Regions from separate parts of the Homo sapiens genome. Here all the other regions are linked to region 2. The links come from fine-mapping of genetic effects on gene expression. A gene starts in region 2. Each other region holds a variant in brackets. All regions are shown on one strand. Distances are from middle to middle. Region 1 has its middle 88 kb from the start of ERCC6L2. Region 2 holds the start of ERCC6L2-AS1 (ERCC6L2 antisense RNA 1). Region 3 overlaps ERCC6L2 (ERCC excision repair 6 like 2). Region 4 overlaps ERCC6L2 (ERCC excision repair 6 like 2).

Region 1 (8,109 bases), 88 kb before region 2:
CATGTGACTCAGCCCTTCTGGTCAGTGAGACTTAAGGGGAGGGGGGCTTTGGGAGTTTGGGGAAATACAGAGAGAAACGCAGGGAGAGCTGCCCCAGAGTCTGCTGCCTTTGCGTGAGATAGGGTGAGGGAACAGGACACCTGGAGCGGTTGGAGCGGTGGCCACCCACCTGTGACGGGGAGGTGGGGGCGCTGAGAACAGAGACGGGAGGCTGTCCGAGTGGCCCTGACACTGCAGAGCCCAGAGCTGAGCTCACGCCTCCGCCTCTGGGCTTCCTGTTACCCACAGCGCAGGTCCCAGGAATTGAGCCACCGGTGGTTGGGGATGGCACGCAGCCTGTGGGAGGCGGCCTTTCCTTCCCAGTTTCAGCCTCTTGATCAGAGTCCATATTTACAGAACTCCTCTCACCCTGGCTCCCCAGTAGCGTGTGTTCCGTGGAGCACAGTTTGGGAAAGGCTGGTGGGAAGGGGACGGGAGAGAGGCAGGACAGTGGGCTCCCAGGCCCACTCCCCCGCGAATACAGCAATCGTGCCTTGTTTCATCGTCTGGAAAATGAAGGGCGGGCCCACATCCCCTCTTCCTTCCCAGCCAGCTCTTGGCGTCCAGTATCTGCGCCCAGGACCATGTGCTCCATGCCCCTGGACTTGGGTCCCAGCAGCTGCCACCCACCTGCCCTGCTTGCCACTAAACTAAGTCTCTGCCCTCCCAAGGTTTAAAGAAGAGGACAGCAGCACTGACTGAACATCTTCTTAGGGGTCAACTAGGATTATACACACGCATTTAAAGCTCGCTTTGCAGTCGTCCCCACCCTTTCCCGCCCTTCCTTATTGGGGGCCACGAGGGTCCTGGAAGCTGGGGGCACCCAGCGGGGGGCACTGTCACCGCACTGGCCTGGGGGAAGCGCAGCTGCGCTGCCCACGCGGGGTCGTGGGTGGAGGGGTTGGGAGGCGGTCATGCCACCCCCGCCTCTCCCGCGGCCGGAGGGCACCGGTTCAGCTGGCTCCCGCCGGTTAGGAGGCCTGTGTGAAAACCTCATTATGCAGCAGCATAACTCGATAGCACCCCCGGGTTCAGGCTTCCCTGGCCACGACGAGCCCTGCCGCCCCAGGGTCCACGTGGCCGAGCGGGGACGGGGAGGCCCCCTCCTCCAGCGGGGTCCTTCAACAGCTCCAGCATCGCCACTCTCGGGAGCTCCGGACTTAAGCGGGGCTTCATATATTAGCGGCGTGCCCAGCAGTCCCACGAGGTTGAGACTGTGTCTCCGGGTTTCCTGCAAACAGATCCTCTTCCTCCTCACAGCAACCCTGTTCCCCTTCAGAAAGGAACGACAACAAAATGATACCGGGTTTTCTTTTTGGAAGATGTCCTGACCTGTGTGTATGAGCGGAGGGTGAGAGAACAGGGATGCAAGAATCATGAACAGAGACTCATTCCCCTGGCTTTGCTCAGTTATCCTAAAAATCCAAGTAGCCAGTTTTACTATGCTGCTCCTTAGAGATATAGACACTGAGGCTCAAAAAGATGGAGAAACCCGTCCAAGGTCACACACAGCTAGAAGTGACGGAGCTATAAGATTCAAACTTGGCCATCTGACCCCAAAGCCACCCCCTTGACTATCTCAGGAGGCTTCTACCTTGGGGACATGCCCATTTGGCTGGGAAATTCTCCCAGAGCTTGTCTAGGTTTGTGTGTAGCTTTCAGAGTTATGGAAGGGCCAGGAGATGTCTAAAGATTTTCAGATTAATATGCTCAAGAACCTGACCATGTGGGTTGTAGAAGGACTGCAGATTTCAATAGAGAGGGTAGAATCTGACTCCCTTGGAGTGAGGTGTTCCTGCAAAGGCATCTTTGGGCAAGGTGGCTTCCCATGCTGTGACACAGCAGCCTCATGCGGCCTCCAGCCTGGCGGTTTTGGGCAGTAAACAGATGACCTCATTGGCTGAGGCCATCCATCTGGGCTTCTCAAGAACTCTGGTATAATTTTAAAAGGTGGCTGGGCAAAGACAAGAGTGAGAGAGGACTCCCTTTAGGGATCCTGTGTTGACAGCCCTTTATGACCTCCAAGGTGGGAACCGGCTTCTGCAGAAATTGCATTTTTAATATTTAAGTAAGAATCGGCATGCTTTGGGGAGCCTAACTGAATTTCCAATGGATCAGCAGAAAAGTCAACAAAAGGTTGTGTTTCTTGTTCTAATCCCTTCACTTATTCCACCAAATGGTTGTCAGATGTTCAACCACACCGAGAGCTAAGGAAAGCCCACGCCAGGAAGGCTAAACTTTGGCTGCTGCAAGGTGTCTTAAAAACAGTGGTGTTACTTAGGGTTCTGGAACCAGTTGAAAGCCTGGAAGGAGAGCCCGTGTGCTTTATGATGCCTCAGGACAAGGTGGGAGGAAAGGGGAATAAAAGGCTTGCCTGTTGCTGAGCTAAAAGGAGTCAGTATGAAAATGCAGATTGCCTTAAGCACAGCTAAGTGCCACAGGCTTTGCCCTCTGCATTGGAGGAGCGTTGGTATCCTGCAGAATGAGCCTTGGAGCCTCTGCTACACCAGTACTACCTTCTAATAAGAATGAAGGCAAGGATCTTGATTCCTGGCATTCGTCAAATTGCTGTTTGCAAATAGTTTCCATGTATTTCTCAGCTCTGATCACTTGGTAGTGGTTTCACGCAGCATGTGATGAGAAGGCTTCTGAGGCCTTATGCGGGCTCAGAGGAGGAAAGTGTGATGATCAATCAGTGATCCCCGCCATGGGTCTCAATAGGGGAAAGAGGCAGCAGGTAGGCCAGATATGTGTCACCCCCTGTGGAATAGAACTGCGATGACCAGTAAGGGGTTTAGAGTGACATCGCTTGAGACTTCCGTAGGCCTTATATTGTGGAGCTTAAATTTACATATGCTATTTCAGCGGGGCAGAAAAAGGTATCGCCTCTTTATTTTCTAAAGGTATCTAATCTTCCCTGCAAACCTCACCTTGCTGGGTGGCTGGAAAGGATGAGTTTCAGGAAGAGGAGGGAGGTGGTTGGGAACTCCTTTAATTTGCCAGCTTTCGGAGTTTAGGTTACTTCGTGTTTAAACAGTCTTCCAGGGAGGGGAGTGGGGAGGGCAACCCAGTCTTTCATGTTTCCTCTTCCTCAGCTTGCTGTTCCCAAGAGGGCACCTGGGTCTGTGGAAATGGGGAAGGGGTGGCGGTGACCTTGTGACCGAGGGCAGAAGCCTCAGGCTGGGAGGTGCCCTGGGATTCTGGTTGCTGCCATCTGCTTTGGGTAGTGTCATCTGGCCCCTAAGCTCCTCCGCTCCCGGGCCTGGTGTTCCTCCAGGTAACCTGTGGTTTGTTCTCCTGGTTTGTGGCTGTTCTCCTCCTTGACTTGGCCTCATGTCATTTCTCCCCGATGCCCCAGGCCCTTCTGAACCTCAGTAGTGTCTTCCATCGGGCCCCTGGCCAGGATGCGTGGCTTGCCATCCCCAAGACAGGGTTGCCGGCAGTTAGGATTTTGGAGTTTCAAGTAACAATACAAAACTTCAACTCATACTGTATGAAGCAATGGGAAGATGTATTATCTTACATCATGAGAAGTCTAGAGGCAGACTGGCCTCCAGGAACACTGTGGTCACCAATAATAGGGTCTTTCTTCCCCCTCCACTCTCTTTATCCTGAAGCTGCTCTGTGCCCTAAACCCTGCCACAAAATGATTTTCAGTGGAAAACAGTGTGGTTTACTTTCCTGTTAACAGCCCTCAGAAGAGAACCAAAACCTCTCCTCAAGCAAAGATGGTTAAGTTCCACACCTTCATTGTGACTGGCTTTCTTTTCTTGTCAGGACAGAGCTCTGACGTTGCATGTTTTACTTCCTTAGGGTGCGGAGGAGTGGTCTTCTCTGCTCTCAGTCCGTCAGGCTTGCCCCCACTGCTGAAGCCATGAGTCCACTGGTTTATCATCTCCCCAATATTATTATGCCTCATCTGTAAACTGAAGATGATAGAGTATCTAATACATGGTATTGTTACAGGCTAAGCTGAGATAATTTATGTAACATCACTTTCTATAGCTTCCGACACACAAAAATGATAATAAATGTTAGCGTTGTTTTTCAGTTCTCATTCAGTTCTCATAGGAAA[T/C]GTTAACTCTTTTCCTTTGGCAAAAATAAACATCAACATTCTGAAACTGTTTTCAGAAAGATGATGTTAGGACAGGAAGGTGTTTTTTGTTTTTTGTTTTTTTTGAGATGGAGTCTTGCTCTGTGGCCCGGCTGTAGTGCAGTGGCGGGATCTGGGCTCACTATCAACTCTGCCTCCTGGGTTCAAATGATTCTCCCTCCTCAGCAGACAGAGTAGCTGGGATTACAGGCGCCCGCCACCACACCCAGCTAATTTTTGTATTTTTAGTAGAGACAGGGTTTTATCATGTTGGCCAGGCTGGTCTTGAACTCCTGACCTCGTGATCTGCCCTCCTCAGCCTCCCAAAGAGCTCACGCGGTGGCTCACGCCCAGACTAGGACAGGAAGTCTTGTCGGCTTAGTTCATTGCTAGCACCTAAAAGTAAGAGCTGGCACCCAATTAGTGCCTCACTTAACGTAAGGCATCTTCTAGAGTAGAACCAGTCTTTCAATTGTAGAGAATGCTTCAAGTAAAAATGTTAAGTCCTGCAGATATATCACTTCTGGAATGTCTTGGGTGTTGACACTCAATCAGAACTCTACGACATTCCTCAACCCTCCCGTGGACATTCGATGCCTTTAGATCCCGGCTCCTCCCCTTGCTCTTGGCAAAGGATGGCCGAAGTCCTGGGGAGAGTCGAGCTGGCTATGACACACTTAAAAGATGTAAAGTGAAGACAGGTTTCAGATCTTTGTGGTGTTAGTGACACCAGGGAATCCTCCTGACAAGGGCCTAGATCTTTAGATCACAAAATACTCATGAACAGAATATTGTTTATATAATTCCTGGAGAAGTGATTCTAATAGAGAACCAAAAGGGGTTAAAAAAAAAATCACGGGACCAACTGAAGACAGTTTTTGGCTTTCAGTGTGCGTGGAGTAAATACAGCATGCCCTGTCTGAGATTCCAGCACCAGATCTTCATTCAGTGGGTAGAGTTCTGCCAAGCTTCAACTGCTGCCATGAGTTAGCTAGAGCCAAAAAGGACTGAAAAAAAAGACTTTTCATAGAGAGATAGGTGGACAGTTACGCTCTGGCTGGCATGCCCACTTTGCCTCTGCTGTTGAACAAAAGGTCCCCATGCAAGGTCAATGCGTAATGAGCCACAGTTCAGCTGGAAATACATTTTCAATGGCTTCCATCCCTTTACAGAACAAAGGGGAAAGCCCAATTCAGGTCAGCACTTTATAGCATCCTCATTTGATGAGAAAGAACATTTTTTTCACTGGCTGCTGGCACAGTCTCCCTGCTCGTGGGAAGAAGCATCTTTGATCCACTTGGCACAGGTGGTGAGGTTGAGTCCTGTCACTGTCCGTGCAGAGCTCAGCCGGCATCTCTGCTTAGAGATATACTGCATATTATCATATGCAGTGCAGGCAAATAGACCTTCATTTCTCTCTGGCCCCTTCTCTCCTTTTTCCTCTACTCTTTTGGAAGTACTTGAAAACCTATACCTTTCAGAACGAGGAAGAATCTACATTTTTAAATTAACAATAATATCTTTTATTTGGCCTGATTTTATTTTACTTTATTTTTTATATTTAACTTGCACAACTTGATGTTTTGATATACACATACATTGTGGGAAATCACAATCAAGCTAATTAATATATCTATCACCTCACATTGTTACCATTTTTTTCTTTTTTTTGTGGTGAGAACACAAGATCTACCCTCTTGGCAAATTTCAAGTATACAATACCGTATTGTTATTATATTCACATTGCTGTACATTAGACCTTCAGAAGTTATTGACCTTGCATCACTGAAACTTTGTTTTGTATCCTTTGACGAGCATCTCCCATTTCTCCCTCCTCCAGCCCCTGGCAACCACCATTCTATTCTGTTTCCATGAGCTCCACTTTTCTGGATTCCACAAGTAAGTGAGATCATGCAGAATTTGTCTTTCTATATCTGGCTTATTTCACTTAGCTCCGTGTCCTCTGATTCATCCATATTGTCACAGTCTCGCTCAGTTGCCCAGGCTGGAGTGCAGTGGCACGATCTCTGCTCACTGCAACCTCCGCCTCCTGGGTTCAAGCGATTCTCCTGCCTCAGCCTCCCAGTAGCTGGGATTACAGGCGCCCACCACCATGCCCAGCAAATTTTTTTTTTTTTGAATTTTTAGTAGAGATAGGGTTTCACCATGCTGGCCAGACTGGCCTCGAACCCCTGACCTTAAATGATTCGCCCACCTCGGCCTCCCAAAGTGCTGGGATTACAGGCGTGAGCCACCCGGCCCAGCCAGGATTTCCTTCTTTTTAAAGGCTGAATAATATTCTGTTGTGTATGTATCACATTTTCTTTATACATTCATCCAAATTGTTGGACACAAAAGTCGATTTCATATCTTGGCTATGGTGAATAATGCTGCCATGAAGATGGGAGTGGAGGTACCTCTTTGAAATACTGATCTCATTTCCTTTGGATAAATAAAAGAAGTAGGATTGCTGGATTAAAATGTGATCTAATTTTCAATTTTGTGGGAAAATTCCATACCTTTTGCCATAATGGCTGTACCCATTTGCATTCCTTATGTATAAGGGTTTCCTTTTCTCCACATCCTCACCAGCACTTCTTATCTTTTGCCTTTTTGGTAATCTAACAGGTGTGAGGTGGATATCTTATTGTGATTTTGATTTGCAAGAGGGAGAATATTTTTGATTGTGAAACACTCTGATTTTGTGCTATGCAATATGGTAGTCACTAGTCAGTCATGTTGTAACTATTTAAATTTGAATTAATTAAAATGAAAAAAAAACCCAGCCAGATCCTCAGATGCAGTAGCCACATTTCAAGTGTTCAGTAGCCACGTGTGCTACCATACTGGACAGTCCAGATTATAGAACATTCCCATCAGCACAGAAAGTTCTACTGAACAGCACTGCTGCAGATCCTTGCTATTTATTTATTTATCTATTTACTTTTGAGATGGAATTTGCTCTGTCACCCAGGCTGGAATGCAGTAGCATGATCATAGCTCACCGTAGCCTCGAACTCTTGGGCTCAAGCAATCCTCCCATCTCACCCTCCCAAGTGGCTGGAACTACAGGTGCACACCACCATGCCTGGCTAACTTTTTATTTTTTTGTAGAGATGGGGTCTCACCATGTTTCTCAGGATGGTCTTGAACTCCTTGCCTCAAGCAATCCTTCAACCTCAGCCTTCCAAGTAGCTGAAACTACAGGTTCATGCCAGCATTCTCGGCTTTCAATTTTTTTGTAGAGATGGGGTATCACTATATGATTTCCAGGCTGGTCTTGAACTCCTAGCCTCAAGCAATTCTCCTGTCTCAGCCTCCCAAAGTGCTGAGACTATAGTCATGACTGGCCGCACCTGCCTAGATTCTTAAAGTTTGGTCTATGGTCCAACAGCATCAGCTTCAATGGTCATGTTTTAATTTAAAACATAAGTTGTTAAAATAAATGTCAATACAAGATTCCTTCCTTATTACTTACCTTCAAAGAAAGTAAGACCTTAACTTTATAATATCTTTTCAGTGCATAGAATTAAAATAAAAATTTTCATCTCAGACTTGGAAATATTTATTTTTAATTCCTTTTTGGTAAATAAATTATGCCATATTCTTAAAAATGGAATATCTGTACTCATTAAAATGATATTGTAGAAGATTGTTTATGGCATGGCAGAATTCCATAATGTATTTATTTCTATTTGTATTGTTTAATTTCTTCACAGCTTTATTCTGCCTGACACAATATATTGCTGAGGGGGAAAACTCCAAATTACGAGAGCAAATACAGTACTATTACACGCCCAGAAGCACACACACAATCCCAGGAAAAGAAGGGATGTTTATTCAGATGTTAACCAAGGTTAATCCTGCAGACTGTTAGCTATGGATAATGTTGATTGCCTCTCCTGTGTCCATCCCCCCTACTTTCCTTTAGAGTAACTTGTCACTTTGGGCTCAATATCTCCCCAAGCCCTGTTTAC
Region 2 (8,109 bases):
CTCAGCTATGCATTGAGATTTTTTTATTTTTAAAATTTTATAGATTCAGAGGGTACAGTACAGGTTTGTTACATGGGTATATTGCATAATGGTGAGGTTTGCACTTCTAGTGTACCTGTCACTCAGAGTGAAAGTTGTTCCCAACAGATAATTTTTCAACCCTCACCTCTCTCCCATCCTACCCACTTTTGGAGTCCTCTGTGTCTATTATTTCCTTCTGCATGTCCATATGTATCTATTAGTTAGCGCCCACTTTTAAGTGAAAACACGTGGTATTTGATTTTCTGTTTCTGAGTCATTTCACTTAGGATAATGGCCTCCAGCTCCATCCATGTTGCTGCAAAAGACCTGATTTTATTCTTTTTTTTTTTATGGCTGCAATATATTCCATGGTGTTTATATACCACATTTTCTTTATCCAGTCATCTCTTGATAGACACTTAGATCGATTCCATGACGTTGTTATTGTGAACTTTACTGTGGTAACATACAAGTGTGGGTGTCTTTTCAATATAATGATTTATTTTCCTTTGGGTACTCAGTAGTGGGATTCGTGCATCAAATGGTAATTCTACTTTTAGTTCTTTGAGAAATCTCCATACTGTTTTCCATAGAGGTTGTACTAATTTACATTCCCATCAACAGTGTATAAGCATTCGCTTTTATATTTTGAGAGTTTTTATAAACATGTTTCAACCAGTATTTCTTGGTGTTTTGTTGCAGGATTTTTATACTTATCTGACATGAGGTATTAAATGTTCTATTATTTGAGTCTATTTATTGAGTCTATGAAGTAAAAATGGTGTTGGTGAATATTCAAGGTGTAATGATATTCATTATATGGGACCATGATATACTTCTAACACTGACTCTATATATCTTTCACTATACCTCATTCAAGCCTCAAATTTTCCTTTCTTTGGCCGGAGCTTTTTTGTTGTGTTTTGCTTTTTAAACTGTGATAAGAAAGAACATATTATATAAAATGTACCTTCTTAACCATTTTTAAGTGTACGGTTTAATAGTGTTAAGTATGTTCACACTGTTGTGCAACGTTGAGTTTTAAACTTTAAGATTTAGGTTATTTGTGGCAAGGAAGGACAGGTCTATTTTATCTTCTTTCTCTTGCCTTCACTCATCTTTGCTTCCTTATTGGCTGGAACGACGTATGAAGGGAGAAATGCTGCAACCTAAAATCATCTAACTAAAACTCAAAAGACTTAATTTCTTGTGTTGTCTTAGAGTTTCATATCTATTTTTTTCTGGAGCCTTTTTGCTAGATTAACTCACAATTCTGGAGATCTGTCAACCACATACAGATATATATTTGACTTTTGCAGTGTGAAGATAAAGAGAGACTATTTTTTGGCAAATTATTGGTGGGTTTAATCATCCTTCCATGAGCCTGTTTTGAAATGCCTGTGTTATCACCATCTGTGTTATTTTTTTCTCTTTTGTAGTTTTAATTGGCTTAATTTTTGCTAGATCCTCCTTTGCCAAAAGTTTTGTATGTGATTCAGTTCATTCATGTGATTTATCCAACATCACACATATTAACTACAGGAATTCCTTAATATTTTACAAGATATTCAGTTTAACTTTGAAGTGACTGGTCTGACAGCGTTAGATGTTCACAATATCAGCACCTAGACAAGGATGTCAATGCAAAGACAAAAGCTACTGGGGGAAGGAATATTTGAGAATGTCTAACTTTATGAGGCAACTAGTTCACTAGGACATATTTTCATGTCATGATTATTTCTGCTTCAGTATACACTGTAAGTACAGCAGTGAGGTTAAATAATAAACACTCAGAAAATGAGGGCCGGGCGCGGTGGCTCACGCCTGTAATCCCAGCACTTTGGGAGGCCGAGGCGGGCGGATCACGAGGTCAGGAGATCGAGACCATCCCGGCTAAAACGGTGAAACCCCGTCTCTACTAAAAATACAAAAAATTAGCCGGGCGTAGTGGCGGGCGCCTGTAGTCCCAGCTACTTGGGAGGCTGAGGCAGGAGAATGGCGTGAACCCGGGAGGCGGAGCTTGCAGTGAGCCGAGATCCCGCCACTGCACTCCAGCCTGGGCGACAGAGCGAGACTCCGTCTCAAAAAAAAAAAAAAAAAAAAGAAAATGAGGTATCCTCCTCTTTTGTTAGTCACAAGGGTATTCCTTCAACCAGATGATACCTCCCATTTAAATCAAAATTTATTTCTGAATTTGCTTATCACTTCTATTAAGAGGTCTGCTCTGTCAAGAGCTACATCTTAACTCAATGGACCTCTGGAAAAATAAGACAAAATTACACAACTAGTCATTTCAGAGAGGGGAAAAAAATCAAACTTCTTCCCTGGTAGTTGTAGGGGAAAAAAAGAAGCTTGATTAAAATTTCAATTTGCCATTTTGATTTTAGAGACAATGTGAAAAGAGATATAATCCATCAATAACAAGCAGCAGATTTTTCTAGATTTTAAGATTTCCAATATCAGGGTGCATGTCAGAATCAAGAATTACAATTATAATTAGTAGTGTTTTTCGCTGTGTCGCCAGATTAGAGTGCGGTGGCGCAAACTCGGCTCACTGCAACCTCTATAGACCTCCCGGGTTCAAGCGATTCTCCTGCCTCAGCCTCCTGAGTAGCTGGGACTACAGGCATGTGCCACTACGCCCAGCTAATTTTTGTATTTTTATTAGAGACGGGGTTTCACCATATTGGCCAGGATGGTCTTGATCTCTTGACCTCATGATCCGCTCACCTTGGCCTCCCAGAGTGCTGGGATTACAGGCATGAGCCAACCGCGCCCGGCCTATTAGCCAAAATATTAAACTGACATAATGGCTATGTAGAATGCAACTTTCAAGTGGATGCATTCCATTGATAATAATAGTAATAACAACACATATATTCCTTACTATGACCAGCTACTGTTTTAGGAGTTTTACTTAATTATCTAATTTTTTACAATTACCATTTTTAGGTAGTTTACTATTATTAGCTTCACTGTAATGGTGATAGGTGAGTACAATAAAACACGGAGAAGTGATCTGGCCAACAACTCACACATAGATGGCTGAGTTAGATGTTTCACTTAGGCTTAAAGTTATTGCCTGCTGGTAAGCAAACAAGTCATATTTTAAATGAAGCATTTTATGAACACATACTACTAGTTTTTAGTATCTGCCATAGAATTGAGATCTATTTGCAAACAGCCATATTGTTTTCTTAAGACACTACTGTAGGCAGAATAATGATCCCCCAAAGATGTTTATCTCCTAATTTCCGGAATTCGTGAATATATTAGCTTACATGGCAAAAGGATTCTGCTGATGTGATCAAGGGCAGAGACCTGGAAATGGGAAGATGATCCTGGATTACTCAGGTGAGCCCTCAGAATCTTTTCCAGCTGCAATCAGCGGTAGACTTGAGGATGGAAGGTTCAGAGAGATGGCATATCACTGGCTTTGAAGATGGAGGAAGGGACCAAAGCCAAGGAATGTGGACAGAAGCTGGCAAAGGCAAGCTAAGGATTGTCCTGTGGAGTCACCAGAAAGGAGTGCAGCCCGGGTGACACCCAGGTAGCACTTCTGATCTACAGAACCGTGAGATAATAAATGCATTGTCTGTCAGATGATAAATTTGTGCTGTTTCAAGCTACAAAGTTTGTGGTTTTTGGTTATTGTGGCAATAGGGAACGGATACAGGCCCTGTCAGGTATTTCACTCAATCCATGAAATACCTTACAGTATACAAATTTTAACATGCGCGGGAGCCACTTACGGATCCGTCTATCTGTGCTGCCTGGGAGTGTCAAGAGGCCGTGTCCTTCATTCACCTCGCGCGTGGGCGGCGCTGCCCTGAAGATGCTCCCGGGCTCAGTGCAGACGGCTCAGCGTTCTCTCGCGTTCAACGAACCGCCAGAAACGTCAGATGGTACGGAGGAAAACACTTTACACTTTAACAGTATTTTTACGTTTATTTGCAGCAAATGTTGTTGGCTTTGTATTTAAAGTATTTATGACTCACTATAAAGTGTAGGATCCAAGAAAACGCGCTAGTTTCACTTGGCCCCCGTGGCTGTCCCGGGGAGCTCTCCAAGGAAGGACTGGTTCCTGAAGTTCCTGGGGTGCTGCACCACCACGGAAGAACCAAGCTCCACAGAGAAGCCAGAAGCCGCGACCGCGGGGACGCTCTCTGCCAGGCCTCCACCGCCTCAGCGGCCCTTTACAGCCACCGCATTCTCCATGCCCCCAGTTATTTCTAGCTTCGCACAGCGCCCGGCCCACCGAGCGACCTCAAACCTCGCGACACTCGCAACTCCCGAGGCCCTTCCTGCTACTGGCCTCAGAGGGAAGAGACATCGGGAAGATTGCTCCGCCCACAGAAAGGAAGATTTCGTTCTCGCGAGATCCCAATGACAATTCGGGAGCCCGTTCTCGCGGGATTTTCCAAGACCGGGTTGGAATTTGCGGGGGTTAGGAGACGGAAGTCAGAGCCTAGGAAGATTTGGGGGTCGCCTTGCCGGCCTCCTGTCCTCCTCCGGCGGCGGCGGAGCCCGAGAGAACTAGGTGAACACCGCTTTGCCAGCCTCACACAGCGTCCCCTGGCTCTGCCGCCGCTCCGGACGTCGCCCTCCCGTTCTGCTTGGGTCCCCTTAGTCGCTACCTTTGCTGGGATCCCCCTCCTCCATCCTGTGGCTTCGGGTTGCCGAAGAGCGATGCTCGGAGGGCGGCCGGAAGTGGCGTTGGCCGCCATTGGCCTGCCGGCCAGCCACCTTGCTGTCCTCCGCCGCCTTCCGGGTGTTACATGCAGCCGGGCTCGGCCCCTCCCCCTGGCCGGATGGATCCGTCGGCGCCACAGCCCCGCGCGGAAACCTCAGGCAAAGGTACCAGCTCCGCGCTCGCCCCTTACGCAGAGGCCTGTGTACTGCGTCGCGTTGGACCAGTTCTTGCCGGTGCCCTTCGGGTTGGGGTTTTGCCCTGTAGATCCTCTTCAGTGACAGCTGCAGATTGTGAACCCCTCCAGGCCTGGAACCAAATCTCCGATTCAGTGTTGAGAACCTGGACTCGGGAGTCAGCCCCTGGGATCTAGTGCTGCCTCTGACAGTTACTTGCTGAGCAACTTTGGGCAGGCTCCTCATCTGTAAAACTGGGTTCATTACTAGGTTCTTGCGATTATTAAATGACGTGGGGAATACGCAAAGTATTTATGTGACCCCGCGTGTGGCCCATATTAAGCACTCAGTAAATGTTATTTTCATTCTTTATTCTTGTATGCCCCAGTTGTTAGTGAATGGCAGAAGTTTGTTGTAAGTAGATAAATGAAGGTTGAGATATTTAGTTCAGTTGAGTTTTATTGCCTATTGAGTCAGGGCATTATATTCTGCCTTAAATAGGAGGTTTAAAGAAGGTGTGATTATCTACCACAAGTCACCTGGGATGCCTTCTGGCACCCAAATGAGTAGTTTTCATTAATAATTGTGCTGTATAACAAAAGCTACCAGGTATTGAGTGATTTTCCTGAGCCCAGCAATATGCTGATTGTTTACTTGCTTTCCTTTGAGGAAGATATCGATCTCATTAAATAGATGAATTCAGAGCTAAAGTTCAGAGAGGGCAAGTTACAAGCCTGAATTCTGAGGTCTAGGAATTGATGACGCTGTAATTCAGGGACCAAACATATAAATACCTATAGGAGACTGGCAGCTAAAAATAGATGAAGCTGCCGAGTGGATATTGTGACTGGGAGGCTCATTCCTTTTGATAAATCTAGTCACTCTTGGTATTTAGGGAAATTGGTGGAAGGAGCAGAAAGCTCCAGGGCCCCGAGGTGGGAACACCCTTGAGGAATGCTTGAGGAGGCCTTTGGAGTGAAAGAGGGAGAGAGAGACCCTATCACCAGAATGAGTTGAGTTGGTAATTAGTTTAAACCAAAACAAATGATTTCGACTCATTAAATTTTAGGACACTTAACCCATTTCCCTGTTAAATCCAACAGGAAATCTTAACAATTTAAGCAGTTGTTCTGTAGTTTGGATACTGAGAGATTCCATTTCTAACTCAACTGAATTTATTTCGTCCTAGAAATTATCCGAACTCAAACCCAAAATACTCCAATAAGTTGTGTGATTCCCTTAAGGCTTTTTTTTTTTTGCACATGCTGTACACTTATCTGAGATACAGTTCTTAGACCCCTTTCCCTTTTAAATTACATTTCTCAATACTCCCTTCTCATAGCACTCTTCTTCCAATGCAGTTTTTACAGTTATGTATATGTTGGTGTACTTTTTAGTTTTCTCGCAAGATATCAAGGATTTGTGAGATTGATAATTTGTAATAGGCCAGGCGCATGGCTCACACCTGTAATCCCAGTACTTTGGGGAAGCTTAGGCGGGAGGATAGTTTGAGGCCAGCCTGGACAACATAAGCGAGACCCTGTCTCTACTAAAAATAAAAAATTTAGCCAGGCATGGTGGTGCACACCTGTAGTCCCAGCTACTCAGGAGGCTGAGGCGGGAGGATGGCTGAGCTCAGGAGTTGGAGTTTACAGTGAGCTATAATTGTGCCATGACACTCCAGACTGGGCGACAGAGACACTCTTGTCTAAAAAAAAAAAGAAAAAAAAAAGAATGTGTAATAAATTCGCATGTTCACTGAATGTCTGCTGTGTGACTCTGTGTTGGTCCTGGGGATAAAATTTATAACAGTACAAACTTTTCTTGGAAAGGAAATTACTCTCTACTGGAAGGAAAAGACAAAAAACCAGTGGACATGATAATTAAATGTTATGATAAGTGCTACAGAGGCAATAAAATGATGAGATAGAGAATAATGGGTACCCTACGCTAAATAGGTGGACTGGGAGCAGAGAGACTGGTTAGGCATAATTTAGGGAAAGTTGATGGTGGCATGCTTTAAGACAGAGGTCTGCAAACTACTGCCTGTGGGCTAAAACTGGTCTGACACTTTTTTTTGTAAATAAAGTTTTATTGGAACACAACTGTGCCCATTTGTTTATGTATTGTCTGGTTGCTTTTGCATTACAAGGGCAAGAGACTGTATGGCCTACAAAATCTAAAGTAACAAATAGCTAATAACTGACTCTAGAGAAAATGTTTGCCAGCCTTTGCTTTAGAGAGATAGTGGCATGGAGGAAAGTGATTCATTTTTGAAGTAGAACCAGGATATTCTGATGGATTGGATGTAAGGAGTAATATTAAATGAGGTTTAAGGGCTGACTAATGGTTTTCTACCTTGAAAAGTTGGTTAGATGATGATGCCAGTTTTTTGTTTTTTTTTAAATGCCAGCTTTTTTTTTTATTATACTTTAAGTTTTAGGGTACGTGTGCACAATGTGCAGGTTAGTTACATATGTATACATGTGCCATGCTGGTGTGCTGCACCCATTAACTTGTCATTTAGCATTAGGTATATCTCCTAAAGCTATCCCTCCCCCCTTCCCCCCACCCCACAACAGTCCCCAGAGTGTGATGTTCCCCTTCCTGTGTCCATGTGTTCTCATTGTTCAATTCCCACCTATGAGTGAGAATCTGCGGTGTTTGGTTTTTTGTTCTTGCGATAGTTTACTGAGAATGATGATTTCCAGTTTCATCCATGTCCCTACAAAGGACATGAACTCATCATTTTTTATGGCTGCATAGTATTCCATGGTGTATATGTGCCACATTTTCTTAATCCAGTCTATCATTGTTGGACATTTGGGTTGGTTCCAAGTCTGCTATTGTGAATAGTGCCGCAATAAACATACGTGTGCATGTGTCTTTATAGCAGCATGATTTATAGTCCTTTGGGTATATACCCAGTAATGGGATGGCTGGGTCAAATGGTATTTCTAGTTCTAGATCCCTGAGGAATTGCCACACTGACTTCCACAATGGTTGAACTAGTTTACAGTCCCACCAACAGTGTAAAAGTGTTCCTATTTCTCCACATCCTCTCCAGCACCTGTTGTTTCCTGACTTTTTAATGATTGCCATTCTAACTGGTGTGAGATGGTATCTCATTGTGGCTTTGATTTGCATTTCTCTGAGATGATGCCAGTTAATAAGATGCAGGAAGACTATTAGTCACCATCATTTTTGACATTAGTTTTCTTC
Region 3 (8,109 bases), 32 kb after region 2:
ATTTATTTTGCTGTAGGTGTCTAGTAATCCAATTTTATTTTCCTCAGTTGGTTAACCAGTTATCTTAATGTCATTTGTTGAGTAAGCCTGCTTTTCCACAGTGATTTGAAGGGCCACTTTGGTGTAAAATTAAACTCATTTCTATTTCTAGACGTATTATTCTGTCCTAATTATTTGTTCATTTCTCTTCCAGTGCTAAACAGTTTTAGTTATTTTAGCTTTATAATGTAATTTATTATTTGGTAGTTACTCCTCAAGTTTTCTCAACTTATGAAAAATAAATTTTCTCAAATTTCTCCTCAAAACCTATTGATATATTAGTTGATGTTGTGTTGAATTTATAGTTAACTTTGCTTGTCATTTCCATTCTTATATTTCTTATTTACTTCTCTTTTTTAATTGCAAGAGTTGATATTTATTGATCTGGTTTGTAACTTTCTGTTTTGATAGAATATCAAGTTTTGGCATAATGCCAAACTTTAATACTTCATATAGTACTTAGAAAATAGAAGGTGTTCAATTGATGAATGAATTAATAATTGAAGCCATACATGTCAGTGCTAAGTTAGGACTAATAATGTATGTTCAGAGGACAGTGACAGTAGAGTTGAAACAAAGGTTTCACATGGGAAGAAGTGTGATATCAAAATGAAAAATAAATTATACCTTTACAGAAAAATTACAGAATGTAAAATTGGAATCTTTGCTAGAAAACTCAAAGTACTAAAAAAAAAGTTTTCGTATTTATCTCTACAATCTTAACTCTCTCAAAAATACCCAACATAGGTAATTAATTTATTTAATGCCAAAACTTGATATTCTGTCAAAAATTAGGCTGTTTTTATACAAAGGACTTGGAAGAGCCCCTGACTACAGTGGATTCTAAACTGAAATTTCTGTATATGAAATAACTGCAGCATACTGAAGGAGAAAATGATCAGCTATACACACAGTAGGGTGTAAATTAATTATGTTAGGTATTTTTGAGAGAGTTAAGGTTGTGGCGATAAATACAAGGCTTTTTTTAGACCTTTGAGTTTTCTAGCAAAGATTCCAATTTTATGTTCCGTAATTTTTCTGTAAAGGTATAATTTATTTTTCATTTTGATATCACACTTCTTTCCACGTGGAACCTTTGTTTCAACTCTACTGTAATCTCACTGTCCTCTGAACATATATTATTATTCCGAACTTAGCATTGACATGTATGGTTTCATGTATTCATTCATCAATTGAATACCTTCTATTTTCTAGGTACTATATGAAGTACTGAAGTTAAGGTAAATAAAGTTACACATCTCAAGGACGTAGACTTTTTGATTGAAGGTGCTAACAGGATATGTCATGGTAGTTAAGAGTTTTAGAATTAGGCAGACCTGGGTTCAAATACTTACTTTGCTACTTAATAGCAGTATGACCTTGAGTGTGTTGCTTAATATCTCTGTACCTCAGTTTCCTCATCTGTGTTTCTGGGTAAAGTCCCTGAATTAATTTCTGTAAACTACTTCTAAAGGCCTTGGCACACAGTAAGTGCTCAATAATTGTTATGTTATTATTAATACTATTACTACTTCTGCCACAAAAATTGTCACGTTAATCTTTGAGTATCTCATCACAGTCCACACTACATCATTCTTCTATGCCGTGGTTCCTGAGGAATCAGATTTGATAGAAAACTCCTTAATAATTGAGCAAGATTTATTGAAAGATATAAATAATTCAGTATTCTCTAGTTGCATTATTTAACCTAGCTTCTGTTAATTTTAATAATACGTAAGCAAATGAATTTTAATTTTATTTGTGTTAATTTTATATTCAGTTTTATAAAATTGTATTTTAGCTTCAGAATAAGAATTATCACCCTTCCCCCATGTCTACAGCAATACCACTCTGAACACACCACATCTCGTCTGATCTTGGAAGCTAAGCAGGGTCGGACCTGGTTAGTACTTGGATTAGAGGAATAGCTCCCAGAGTTGCTTTGTGTGTAGTGACTTAGCAGTTGGACACTGCTTTCCATTTTATTATTTTGGCATCATTTGCTTAAAAAAGACTTATTAAATGAAATATTATTTATTGGATTGTAGGAAATGCTAAGTTCTTATGTACTTTCCCTGGACTCTGCATAATAGCATAACTCAGTTCTCTGACATCTTTCACTACCAAAATGAATTTTTGAACCATTATTTCACCTTTCATAATTTTGAAGACCAATGTTTGTAAGAAATATCAAGAATTATGTTGCCACCTTAATTTTTAAACATCTTCTGGAATCTTAGGGCTGATGCCAGGACTCTTTAGATTCATTGGCACCTTTGATGAATGGCCTCTCAAGTGGAAAACTACTAAGACTGCTCAGATGCAATTTGCACCTAGCATTGTCATCTCGTAATATACAAAAAAATCAAAGGGAGACACTGTAATTGGACTTAGTAATTGGAGGCCTAATTTCATATTTGAAAGTTAAAAATGGAAATCATAGGATTAACCTTCACCCAAAGGACGGACATACTTGAGATGAATCAAGTATAAGAAGTACTTACATATGCTTGATGATGGCTTGGGAAAAAGGAACTCTCACGTTCAGCATGTTGATTTTCTTTCGTTTTCTTCTTTCTCTTTCCAAAACACAGTCACAAATTTGACTTTTTAGAGTTGACAAATGGCCTAGGTTAAATGTTTCACAGAAAACAGAGCAGAATTTAGAGCAGTATTGTATTATTTCTTGGTTAAACTGAATTTTTTCAGTATGTTTAATTGGTTCATCTCTATCAAGTAGATCAAGTATAAAACTTTAGAAAATAATCGTACTGGTAACCCTATTAAACTTAACAGGATAGGAATAGTGGTAACAGGGAGAAATAAAAACATTAAAAAGTTAAAATGGTTGATGACAGCAGGATTCTGGGTTAGTACAGGAAAGGTACATGAATGTGAGGAATAACCAGAGAGTTACGTTGGTAATCCTCAGAGGGACTGATTTGGTAGGCATTATTAGGGCACAAGTCCCATTTACCTGAGTTTCAAGAGAGAGCAGGAGGAGAGTTAAGCACTGATAACTCTTGATCTTTGCTATAGGGAGAGTAGAGTAATGAGGTAATAGAGATAGATGTTGGGTTAAGGAAAAGAAGTTTTAAAAAATTTTTGTTTTTCGGATTTTTTTAACCCTGGGAAATATTCTAACATGCTTGTCCATAGGTGATGTGGTTCATTAAAATGGAAAAGTTAATCAGGTAGGGGAGATTGGGGGCAGTTTCTGCAGCATTGACTTTAGGTTGGCAAGAAGGAATGGGAGCCACTGTATGAGGGGTTTTTTTGGAGAAGAACATGAGCAGCGTACCCATGGCAACAGGTGGGAGGGCAAAATATATGGAAATGAATATAGATAGGTTATTGATAGGATACTGAGAGAAGTTCATCCAGGAAGTTTTCTTCTGATTGCTTCAATTTTCCAGTGAATTTTCCAGTTCTTTAACTGAGAGTATCTGAAAGAGGGGGAGCGGAAATGGGCTAGGAAAATGCAGAAGGAAAGAGAGCTCCAGGAGACCATATATTTCAAGAACACGTGGCCTGCTTGTGTATGTACATTACCCACTTGGCCTTTGAAGCTATTACTGGGATCCAGATTTTATTCTTTTCTCTCTTTTGGAAAGTTACTTCTCTCTCATTTCTCAGTGCCTTTTTGGTAGGGGGAAATAAAAAACACGTGTTTCTTTGAGCAAGGTTAGGTGTCTGTCTTGTCCTGATAAAAAGCTAATTAAACAGCAAATTATTTTTTGAGAATCTTCAATGTCCAGATATAGCTAATCACTCAGTTGTATTTATTGTTACTAACTAGATGTCAAAATTAAGGAAGAGGACTATTGATATTGATATTGTGGATTTCACTTTGGGATTCTTTTTCAGTTTTTAAAAAACAGCAAAATTTTTTTATTCTTGTTTTAGATGTTCTTAATAGTTGCTCCTCTTTCTGTCCTCTACAACTGGAAGGATGAATTGGACACCTGGGGATATTTCAGAGTCACTGTTTTACATGGAAACAGAAAAGATAATGAATTAATTCGTGTAAAGCAGAGGAAATGTGAAATTGCTCTAACAACTTATGAAACACTACGCTTATGCCTGGATGAACTTAACAGGTAATGGGAATAATAGGAATAGGAATGATTGTATTAATAGTCTACTTACATCCCTTTATATTAAGAGTTTTTTTTTTTTTTTTTTTGAGACAGAGTCTTGCTTTTGTGTTTTTAGTAAAGACGGAGTTTCGCCACGTTGCCCAGGCTGGTCTCGAACTCCTGAGCTCAGGCAATCCACCCACCTCAGCCTTCCAAAGTGCTAGGATTATAGGTGTGAGCCACCGTGCCAAGCCTATATTGTGATTTTTTAAAAAGGAATAATGATGATTCCTTTGCTTGATTTAATTTCATTTTAGAATTATTGAAATATTTAGTTCATAATAACTTACTCTCTGAGAAGGAAAAACCTGCATCAGGTTTTCTAGAACTTCTTATTCTATTTCTTACATTGAATACAGGATACTTCTTCAAACACTGATTGTTAAAGAATGATAAGACTTGTCCTAAATCTCATGTACAGCCTTTTATGCAGACACTGCCTCTGAACTAGGTCAGTAATTTTCATGAATTATTTCAATTATGGGAGTCTGTTGTGAATATAGAGGGGCAAAAACTACACACACACACACACACACACACACACACCCCCACACCCACACACCCACTGTAGCATAGAGTGTGAGGGAGAAGTGGCCAAGAGGTAACACCAGTGAGATAAGCAGGGAAAAGATTATAGAGAGTATTGGAAGGTACTTTGAGGATTTTG[A/G]TCTTTATCCTGAGAGCAATAGAGTGCCCCCTACAGTGTTGTCAGCAGATTACCGATAGGATAAAAATGATCAGATTTGCACTTTGTAAATACCTTAGCTTCTGTGTGTGCAGATAAAGGAGAGCCAAGCTGAATGGAGAAGGACCAATTAAGAGGCTTGTTATGTGCTGAATTGTGTCGCTTCTCCTCAACCCCCATTCCACAATTTAAATGTTCAGGTCTCAACCCCAGCACCTCAGAATGTAACTGTGTTTAGAGACAGGTCTCTTTGATTAAGTTTTAAAGAGGTGATTAAAACCGAGGCTGATTGGGTGGGGCCTGGGTCCAGTATGACTGGTATCCTTATAGGAAGAGAAAGAGACACCAAGGACACACACACACCACAGAGGAAGGGACTTGTGAGGACACAGCAAGAAGGCAGTCATCTGCAAGCCAAGGGGAGAGGCTTCAGGAGAAACCAAATTTGCTGACACCTTGCTCTTGAAATTCGAGCTTCCAGGATTGTGAGGAAATAAATTTTGGTTGTTTTAAGCCATCCAGTGTGTGGTATTTTATTTTGGTAGCCCTAGCAAACCAATACAAGGCTTTTATAGTAATGTGGTCACGGGACCATGGTAGTGAGGTCTGAAGTCTTCATAGTTGTTCCAGCAGTAGGCTGGGCCTTGGTAAAATCATTAGTTTCCATCTGCTTGTAGCCTAGATTTGTCTCTACAGGGATACAATTTATACCTTTTAGGTGAAGATTAAAGCATGGCATTAGAAACAGTTATCTAGTAAGTCTTTAAAATGTTTAGACATTATAGTTATACTCAATTTGAACTACTGCTAATGAAGGAGTTAATGATATTCCCCCAAAGTCAACCGAAGTTTAGAAAATTGGTAATTTTTTTAAGGTGATACTTTCACATCAGCATTAAAATGATTTAGCATAGGATGAAAATGATGAACAATTGATAGTTGTCTCAAATTTTATGAGCACACAAAAAAGAGAGTAAAAAAATCACTAATTAGCCATGTGGCTTTGGGTAAATTAGCCCATCTGGAAAATGACAGAGGATGAATTAAATCAGTCTTTGTGAAAACTAGCCCCTCAAGCCCAGCTGGAGAGTTGTATTAAAATCAACTTTAATGAGAGTTAATTTGTGTAGAATAATTATGCCATTTCAGGAATACAATTTGATGAATCTTGACCAGGGATTGGTAAACTTTTTCTGTAAAGGGCCAGATAGTAAATATTTTAGGCTTTTGGGCCACATATAGTCTCGGTTGCATATTCTTCTTTTTTATTTTTATGACCCTTTAAAATGTAAAAACTATTCTTAGCTTACTGACCATACAAAAGTGGCCACGGGCTGGATTTGGCCATGGGCAGTAGTATACTGACTCCTAGTTTTGACAAATGAGTGCAATCACTATCCCAAACAAGGTAAAAACTATTTTTATCATCCCAGGACTTTTCTTTTACCTCTTTACAGTGGCTTTTCCTCAACCCTCACCTTGGGCAACTACTGATTTTAATTTCTGCCACTTATAGGTGAGTTTAAGCTATTACGGAGCATGTCAATGGTATTATACAGGAAGCACCCTTTTGTGTGTGTCGCATCTTTTGTTCAGCATGTTTTTTGAGATTCATTCATGTTGAGGAGTGTATCAGTGATTGTTCTTTCTTAATGTTGCATTGTATTCCATTTCATCAATATTCACATTTTGTTACCCATTCATTTGAGGATGGATTTTTGGGTTTTTCCAGTTTTGGATTATTATAGATAAAACTTCAAGGCATATTTGTATGTAAGCCTTTTTTGGACATATGTTTTCATTTCTCTTGGAGTAGAATTACTGTATTATATGGTTAACTGTAGGTTTAGCTTTAGAAGAAACTCCCAAACCATTTTCCACAGTGGTTTTACTCCAGCTAGCAATGTGTGAGAGTTCAGTTGCTTCGTATTCTCAGCAACGTTTGGTATTGTCAGTCTTTTTGTTTTAGCTGTTTTAGTAGATGTGTAGTAGTATCTTGTAGTGTAATTTGCATTTTTCTGATCCATGTGCACTTGGAAAACAATGTTCTATAGTTATTGGATGTAGTGTTTATAAATATCAATAAGACTAGATTGGCCAAGATGTTGCTTAGGTGTTTTCTATCTTTGCTGATTTCCTTTTCGATTGGCTTACAGTATCTGAGAGAGGAGAGTTGAAATCTTCAGTTGTAATTGTAGATATGTTTATTTCTCCTTTCACCTCTGTCAGCATTTAATTTAGTATTTTGAAGCTCTTTTATGAGGTGCACATGCATTTATGATTGTTATTTTTTCCTGATGAATTGATCCTTTTATCTTTAAAAAATATACCTATTTATTTCTAATAATATCTCTTATCTTGATGTTTTATCTGATATGAGCATAGCCATATTGTGGTACATTTCAGTAGTTTGTTCCTTTTTATTGCCGATGGTACTATTATATAGCTATCCCATATTTTGTCCATTCACCAGTTGATGGACATTTGAATTGTTTCCAGTTTTTGACTGTATGACTAATGCTGCTGTCTTATGCTGAGTCTTATGCTTACTGCATGTAAATAGCTTTTCCTGTTTTTATTGCAGTATATCTGTTCTTAATATTTGGAGTGAGTCTCCAAATATTGCTTTTTCATCCATTCGGATAATCTTTGCCTCTTATTTGGGTATTTAGACCATTCACTTTGAATATAATTATTGGTAAAATTGGATATGGAGCTACCACTTTTGTCAGGTCTGGGATTTAATTTTATAAATCAAACTTACAAGCTAATAAATTAGCCTGTTACTATTTCATGGATCCTGACAGAAGACTAATCTGAGGCATAGAGAGGTTAAATAATTTTTCTAGGCCTTCACAACTAAGTCAGTGGCAGACATGAGGACTGAACCTTGACCATCTAACGCCAGACCTCAGGTTTTGTTTTGTTTTCTTTTTGAGATAGAGCCTTGCTCTGTTGCCCAGGCTGGAGTGCAGTGGTGCTATCACAGCTCACTGTACCCTCAGTCTCCCACCTCAGCCTTCCAAGTAACTAGGACTACAGGCATGCGCCACCATGCCTGGAAAATGTTTTTGTTTTTTGTAGAGACAAAGTCTCCCTGTGTTGCCCAGGTTGATCTCAAACTTTTGGACTCAAGTGATCCTCCCACCTCGGCCTCCCAAAGTGCTGGGATTATAGGTGGGAGTCACCATGCCTGGCCAAACCTTAGGTTTTTAACCAATATACTGTACCACCCCAAAAGATGTT
Region 4 (8,109 bases), 74 kb after region 2:
CTTCACAATTTATGTTCTTCTGCCATGGCTTCAGCCAGTCCCTCCGTTCAGGGTCCCTGACTTCCCGCAACAGGTGTAAAACTTCCAAAAGAAATAAGAGTACCAAGAAAATGTAATTATTTTAGTACATGATAGGAAATATATAGTTGTGTTGGGAAGATGGAGGAAACTCAGAAAGCATGACCAATGAAGTGTCAGAACTAAATCCAAACATAAATATGAATATGTTGAAACTTTTTTTAGAAAGAAGGAGAAAAGTGGGGCTGGCAGAAAGGAAAAATTAGACTCAGGTTTATGCTTATTATGAAACATATATGTAAATAAAAAAGACACAGGAAGTTGAAAATAAGATAAAAAAATCAAATCAGGGAGATGGTAACAAAAATTAAGAATGGATGGCAATGCTAATATCAAATTATTAATAGAATTCAAGACAAAAGGCATTAAGCAAAACAAAGAGGGCCACAGTCCACTAGGAAGTTGTAATAGTCACTACATAACAAAGCCAAAACTCTTATATATGATGAGAAACAGACAAATCCACAACTATAATGGGAAACTCCATATTCCTCTCTTAAAAAATAATAAATTGGCCGGGTGCAGTGGCTCACACCTGTAATCCCAGCACTTTGGGAGGCCAACGTGGGCGGATCACGAGGTCAGGTGATCGAGACCATCCTGGCTAACACGGTGAAACCCCGTCTCTAGTAAAAATATCAAAAATTAGCCAAGCGTGATGGCAGGCGCTTGTAGTCCCAGCTACTTGGGAGGCTGAGGCAGGAGAATGGCGTGAACCTGGGAGGCGGAACTTGCAGTGAGCTGAGATTGGGCCACTGCATTCCAGCCTGGGTGACAGAGCGAGACTCCATCTCAAAAAAATAAAATTAAATAATAATAATAAATCCACTAGGCTAAATAAATATATAAATTACTTGAATAAAAGTTATCTACCATAATTTAATAATTGTGTATACAGATACATCTCATTTTATTGCACTTCACTTTATTGTGCTTCACAGATAATTGCCTTGTTTACAAATTGAAGGTTTGTAGAGATGTTGAGTCAAGCAAGTCTTCCAGCACCATTTTTCCGTGGCATATGCTCACTTGTGTCTCTGTGAGAATGTAGTTCTCACATTATTTCAGATTTTCATTATCACATCTGTGATGGTGATCTGTGATCACTGATCTTTGAAGTTACTATTGTATTTGTTTCAGGACACCATGAACCATGCCCCTATAAAAAGATGAACTTAATTGGTAGATGTGTGTGTTCTGACTGCTCTGCTTACTGGCCATTCCCCTGTCTCATTCCCTCCCTTGGGCCTCCCTCTTCCCTGAGACACAGTATTTAAATTAGGCCAATTAGTAACTCTGCAGTGGCCTTTAAGTGGTCAAGTGAAAGGAAGAGTTGCATGTCTCTCACTTTACATCGAAAGCTAAAAATGATTAAGCTTAGTGAGGAGGGCATGTTGAAAGCCAAGATGGGCCAAAAGCTAGCAGTTGGCCAAGTTGTGAATGCAAAGGAAAAGTTCTTGAAGGAAATTAAAAGTGCTACTCCAGTGAACACATGAATGACAAGAGCACCAAACAGCCTTATTGCTGATACGAAGAAAGTTTTAGTGGTCTGGATCAAAGATCAAACCAGCCACAGCATTCCATTAAACCACAGCCTAATCCAGAGCAAGTCTCTAACACACTTCAGTTCTTTGAAGGCAGAGAGACACAAGGAAGTAGCAGAAGAAAAGTTTGAAGCTGCAGGGATTGGTTCATGATGTTTAAGGAAAGCAGCCACCTCCATAACAAAAAAGTGCAAGGTGAAGCAGCAAGTGTTGATGTAGAAAAGCTGCAGCAAGTTATCCAGAAGATCTAGCTAAGATCATTGTTGAAGGTACCTACATTAAACAACAGACTTTCAATGAGAACAAAACAACCTTATATTGGAAGAAGATGTCATTGAGGACTGTAGTCAATAAAGAGGAGAGTTAATACCTGGCTTCAAAAGATAGGCTGACTCTCTTGTTAGAGACTAATGGAGCTGGTGACTTTAAGTTAAAGCCAGTGCTCATTTACCATTCCGAAAATCTTAGGGCCTTTAAAAGTTATGCTAACTCTACTCTGCCTGTGCTTTGTAAAATGGAACAACAAAGCCTGGATAACAGCATATCTCTTTACAGGATGGTTTACTGAATATTTTAATCCCACTGTTGAGACCTACTGCTCAGAAAAAAAAAGATTTCTTTCCAAATATTAACTGCTTACTGACAATGCCCCTAGTCACCCAAGTGTTCTGATGGAGATATACAAGGAGATTAATGTTGTTTATGCAGTAACACAACATCCATTCTGTAGCCCATGGATCAAGTTGTACTTTTGACTTTGAACTCTTATTATTTAAGAAACACATTTTGTAAGGCTATAGCTGTCATATATAGTGATTTCTCTGATGGATCTGGTCAAAGTCTGTTAAAAACCTTCTGGAAAGGATTCACTATTCTAGATACCATTTAAGAACATTTGTGATTCATGAGAAGAGGTCAAAATATCAAACAGGAGTTTGGAATAAGTTGATTCCAACCCTCATGGATGACTTTGAGGAGTTCGACTTTAGTAGAGGAAGTAATTCCAGATGTGGTGGAAATAGAGAACTAGAATTAGAAACAAAGCCTGATGATGTGACTAAATTGTTGCAATCTCATGATAAAACTTTAATGAGGTCAGGCACAGTGGCTCATGCCTGTAATCCCAACATTTTGGGAGGCCAGGGCGGGTAGATCACTTGAGGTCAGGAGTTTGAGACCAGCCTGGCCAACATGGTCAAACCCCATCTCTACTAAAATTACTAAAATTAGCCAGGTGTGGTGGCGTGTGCCTGTGGTCCCAGCTACTCAGGAGGCTGAGAATCGTTTGAACCCGGGAGGTGGAGGCTGCAGTTAGCCAAGATGGCAGCATACCCAGGCAGGATGTATACCCAGAAATGACCTGAGAAGACTTTTAGCCTTCACCCCATGTTGTTCCCAAGGCTCAAGACACACCCTGCTAATTAGTGAAGGTCTTCCTTACCAGTTTGCAAAGACTTGGGGAGTTGGCTGTCTTTCCAAATGGTAGTTTTCAAGAAAAGACCACAAGACATTA[GA/G]AAAAAAAAAAAAAAAAGAAAAGAAAAGAAAGAAAATGAAAATACAGCTCATTCAGAGTAACAAAATAAATCTCTAGAAACTAACTGTCCCTGAAGCAAAACAGGCATTGGAGCTACTAGACAAAGACTTTACAACAAGTGTCTTAAATACTCCAAGAGTGAAAGTAAAACACAGAGAAAGAACTAGTGAGGAAAAGGATATATGAGCAAGATGAGAGTATCAACAAAGAGATAGAAATTAAAAAAAGAAAAAAAGAGAGAGAACCAAACAAATTCTGGACACGAAATTCAATTTTGGAATTGAAAAATTCACTAGAGGAGTTCAACAGCAGACCAAAATAGGGAGAAAAAATCTGCAAACTTGAAGATAGGTTATTTAAAATTATTTAATCTGAGGAGCAAAACAAAAAGGGGAAGTGAACATATAGGACACTATCAAATGGACCCAATATGTACGTTATGGAGGCCCAGAAGAAAGGGAAAAGGACAAAAGGGTAGATTAAGAAATAATGAAAAGCTCTCCAAATTTGAGGGAAAATATGGATATACAAATACAAGAAGATCAACCAAGTCCAGATAGTATAAACCCAGTGAGATCCACACTGTGGCACATTATAATCAAACTGTCCACAAAGAGAGCATCTTGAAAGCAGCAAGAGAAAAGCAACATGTCATGTACAAGGAATTTCCATTAAGATTATCAAGTGGATTTGTCAGTAGAAACTTTGCAATCCAGAAGGCAGTGGGATAATATATTTAATGTATTGGGGGAAAAAAAAACAAACAAACTGTCAACTGAGAAACAAAGAAAAAGTGTTTACCGAGAATTTTATGTTGGGCAAAACTGCCCTTCAAAAATGAGGGTTAAGATATTTGCAGACAGACAAAAGCTTGAGGGAGTTCATTACCACTAGACCAGCCCTGTAAGGAATCCTATCCCTGGTGCAGTGGCTCACGCCTGTAATCCCAGCACTTTGGGAGGCCAAGATGGGTGGATCATGAGGTCAGGAGTTCAAGACCAGTCTGGTCAAGATGGTGAAACCCCGTCTCTACTAAAAATACAAAAATTAGCCAGGCATGGTGGCAGGCGCCTATAATCCCAGCTACTTGGGAGGCTGAGGCAGAGAATTGCTTGAACCTGGGAGACGGAGCTTGCAGTGAGCCGAGATGCCGAGATTGTGCCACTACACTCCAGCCTGGGAGACAGGGTGAGACTCCGTCTCAAAAAAAAAAAAAAAAATCCTAAAGGGAGAACTTCAAGATGAAATGAAAGTACACTAGACAGTAACTCAAAGTCATACAAAAAGATAAAGATCTCCAGTTAAGGTAAGTATCATGGACAAATATAAATACCAGTATCGTAATTTTGGCTTATAACTCTGCTTTTTTATTTTCTACAGGATTTAAAAGACACATGCATAAAATAATTATAAATCTATGTTGACAAGTACATTGATATCAATGTAAAATCAATTGATTTAAGGTTGTTATAACTTTAGGATATTATATGTAATCCCTGTGGTAACCACAACAAAAATATCTAAAGTATATGTAAAAGGAAATGAGAAAGGAATAAAAATATGTCACTAAAAAACATCAATTAAACACAAAGGAAGGCAGTAATGGAGGAATTTAGGGGCAAAATAGTTATAAGACATATAGAAAATAAATAAAGTGGGAAAAATGAGTTCTTCCCTGTTCTTAATTATTTCAAATGTAAATGGATCAAATTCCATAATTAAAAGATGTAGATTGGCAGAACAGATTTAAAAAACAGTGTCCAAATATATGCTATCCATAAGAGACTCACTTTAGGTCCAAGAATATACACAGGTTGAAAATAAAAGCATGGAAAAAGATATTTCATGCAAATAGTAACCAAAAGAGAACAGGAATGGTTGTATTAATGTTAGACAAAATAGACTTCAAGTCGACAACTGTTAGAAGAAAGACATTATCTGATGGTAAAAAGTGGATTCACCAAGATTTAACAATTATATACATAAATTCAACAAACAATAGAGCCCCAAATTGTATGAAGCAAACATTGACAGAATTGAAGGGAGAAATAGCTCTGCAATAATAATGGGAGACTTCAACACCTGACTTTCATAATAGGTAAAACATTCAGACAGAAGATCAATAAGTAAGGAGAGGATTTGAACAGCAATATAGACAAATTGGACCTAACAGATATATAGAATTTTCCTTCCAACGACAGCAGAATACATACTTTTCTTAAGTACACAATGAACACTCTCCAGGATAAATCATGTGTTAGGCCACAAAACAAGTTTTTAATACATTTTAAAAGATTGAAATCATTCATTTTTTTCCAGTCACAGTACAATGAAACTAGAAATCAACAGCGGAAGAAAAATTGAAAAATTCACAAATATGTAGAAGTTAAACAACACACACTTAACAAAAGGGTTGAAGAAGAATTCACAAGGGAAGTTAGAAAATAGCTTGAAACAAATGAAAACACACACCACAACTTACAGGATGCAGCAAAAGTAATGCTAAGAGGGAAATTTATAGCTGTAAATGCTTACATTAAAAAAGAATAAAGGTCTAAATCAACAATTAACTTTCCACCTTAAGGAACTAGGAAAAGGAAAAACCCCCAGAGCTAGCCAGAGGAAGGAAATAACAAATATTAGAACAGAGATAAGTAAAACAAAGAATAGAAAAACGACAGAGGCAATCAATGAAACCAAGAGTTGGTTGTTTGAAAAGATCAAGAAAATGGTGGATAAATCTTTAGCTAGATTGACTAAGAGAAAGAAGACTCAAATAATTAACATCAAAAATGAAAGGGGACATTGCTACTGATTTTACAGAAATAAAAAGGAGTTCAAGAGAGTACTGTGAACATTTGTATACCAACAAATTGAATAGTCTACGTGAAATGGATGAATTGCTAGAAATACACAACCTAGGAAGAATGTCATGAAGACATAGAAACCTGAATATAACTATAACTGTGTAAGGAGATTGAATCAGTAATCAAAAACCTCCCAATAAAGTAAAGCCCAGGACCTTAAGGCTTTGCTGATTAATTCTACCAAGCATTTAAAGAATTTGCACCAATCCAGCCAGGCACGGTGGCTCACACCTGTAATCCCAGCATTTTAGGAGGTCAAGGCAGGCGGATCACGAGTTCAGGAGTTCAAGACCATCCTGGCCAACACACTGAAACCCCGTCTCTACTAAAAATACAAAAATTAGCTGGGCGTGGTGGCGTGTGCCTGTAATCCCAGCTACTCGGGAGGCTGAGGCAGGAGAATAGCTTAAACGAGGGAGTTGGAGGTTGCAGTGAGCCGAGATCAAGCCATTGCACTCCAGCCTGGCAACAGAGTGAGACTCCATCTTAAAAAAAAAAAAAAAAAAAGAATTTGCACCAATCCTTCTCAAATGCTTCCAAAAAACTGAAGAGGAAGAAACACATTCCAATTAATTCTATAAAGCCAGCATTACCCCAATACCAAAATCAAAGACTCTACAAGAAAGAAAACTACAGACCAATAATCTTTATGAATGTTAATGCAAAAATACTCAGTAAAATGCCAGCAAACTGAATTTCAGCAGCATATTGAAAGGATGATACACAGAGTAGGATTTATTCCTGGAATTCAAAAACAGTTCAACATCCCACAAAAATCAGTGTAATATGCCACATTAACGAATGAAGGAAAAAAGACACATAATCATTTCATTGATGCAGAAAAAGCATTTGACAAAATTCAACATCTTTTTAAAGATGACAAAAACAACACATTAAAAATAAAAGGAAACAAGCCAGGCACGTTGGCTCGTGCCTCTTGAGGTCAGGAGTTCAAGGCCTGCCTGACCAACATGGTGAAACCACATCTCTACAAAAAAAAATATAAAAATTAGCCAGCATGGTGGTACATGCCTGTAGTTCCAGCTGCTTGCTTGGGTGGCCAAGGCACGAGAATCACTTAAGCCTGGGAGACGAAGGTTGCAGTTTGCTGAGATTGCAACACTGTGCTCCAGCCTGGGCAACAGAGTGACTCCGTCTCAATAAAAAAAAAAAAGGAAACTACTTCAACATATAAGGTCATTTATGAAAAACCCAGAGCTAACATCGTACTCAGTGGTGTCATGATTGAATTGTTTTTCCTGTAATATCAGCTACGAAGAATGGATACCTGTTTTTGCCAGAAAAGGACAAAGATTGTATGATTTCATGTTGTACCTAGAGTCATCAAATTCACAAAGACAGAAAAGAGAATGGTAGTTGCTAGTAGCTGGGGGACTGGAGAATGGGGAGTTATTGTTTAATGAGTACAGAGTTTCAGTTTGGAAAGTGCCTGTAGCTATATAGGTGTTATAGTTGCATAACAGTGTGGATATACCTAATGCCACTTAACTGTACACTTAAAAATGCTTAAAATGATTAAATTTTTTGTTTTGTATATTTTGCCACAATAAGAGGAAATCAAGAGAGAAAAATTTGCTATTTAGAAACAACAATGAGGCCGGTTGTGGTGGCTCACGCCTGTAATCCCAGCACTTTGGGAGGCCGAGGCAGGCGGATCATGAGATCAGGAGGTCAAGACCATCCTAGCTAACACGGTGAAACCCTGTCTCTACTAAAAATACAAAAAAATAGCTGGGCGTGGTGGTGGGCACCTGTAGTCCCAGCTACTTGGGAGGCTGAGGCAGGAGAATGGTGTGAACCAGGAGGCGGAGCTTGCAGTGAGCCTAGATTGAGCCATTGCACTCCAGCCTGGGAGACAGAGTGAGACTCTGTCTCAAAAAAAAAAAAAAACAATGAAATTACTGTGGATCAATATTTAAATTCTGGTGCTAATTTCAATTTTTAAATTCATTTATTAAAAAAGAAAGGCCAAAAGTAAAAGAATAATTTAGAAAACTAGAAAAGGAACAAAGTAAAGAAAATAGAATTATACACATTATTACATTATTAAGATAAAAATAAGAAC

Evidence for each region. PIP is the estimated chance that this variant, and not a neighbour inherited with it, causes the effect.
Region 1: its variant is the best candidate, but not a certain one, in a credible set for the expression of ERCC6L2-AS1 in aorta (GTEx, PIP 0.67).
Region 3: its variant is the best candidate, but not a certain one, in a credible set for the expression of ERCC6L2-AS1 in whole blood (INTERVAL, PIP 0.87).
Region 4: its variant is the best candidate, but not a certain one, in a credible set for the expression of ERCC6L2-AS1 in monocytes (Quach 2016, PIP 0.62).

Annotation. Positions count from the first base shown.
Region 1 is chr9:95,783,503-95,791,611 of GRCh38, forward strand. No RefSeq gene overlaps it. Among named protein-coding and RNA genes, the nearest start is that of ERCC6L2, 88 kb to the right of the region's middle. The variant T/C (reference allele first, on the strand shown) is at 4,115.
Region 2 is chr9:95,871,207-95,879,315 of GRCh38, forward strand. It overlaps ERCC6L2-AS1 (ERCC6L2 antisense RNA 1), which reads right to left and starts at 4,771. Exons shown (of 3, transcript NR_023390.1): 1 at 4,659-4,771. ERCC6L2 (ERCC excision repair 6 like 2) reads left to right here and starts at 4,485. Exons shown (of 19, transcript NM_020207.7): 1 at 4,485-4,878. The coding sequence starts at 4,833. RefSeq lists enhancers at 3,656-3,785, 4,016-4,065, 4,106-4,205, 4,340-5,214, 4,346-4,575 and 1 more.
Region 3 is chr9:95,903,133-95,911,241 of GRCh38, forward strand. ERCC6L2 (ERCC excision repair 6 like 2) reads left to right here. Exons shown (of 19, transcript NM_020207.7): 4 at 3,946-4,139. It also overlaps the pseudogene RNA5SP289. Among named protein-coding and RNA genes, the nearest start is that of ERCC6L2-AS1, 31 kb to the left of the region's middle. The variant A/G (reference allele first, on the strand shown) is at 4,846.
Region 4 is chr9:95,945,656-95,953,764 of GRCh38, forward strand. The region is part of intron 12 of ERCC6L2 (ERCC excision repair 6 like 2); the gene reads left to right. Among named protein-coding and RNA genes, the nearest start is that of LINC00092, 72 kb to the right of the region's middle. The variant GA/G (reference allele first, on the strand shown) is at 3,136.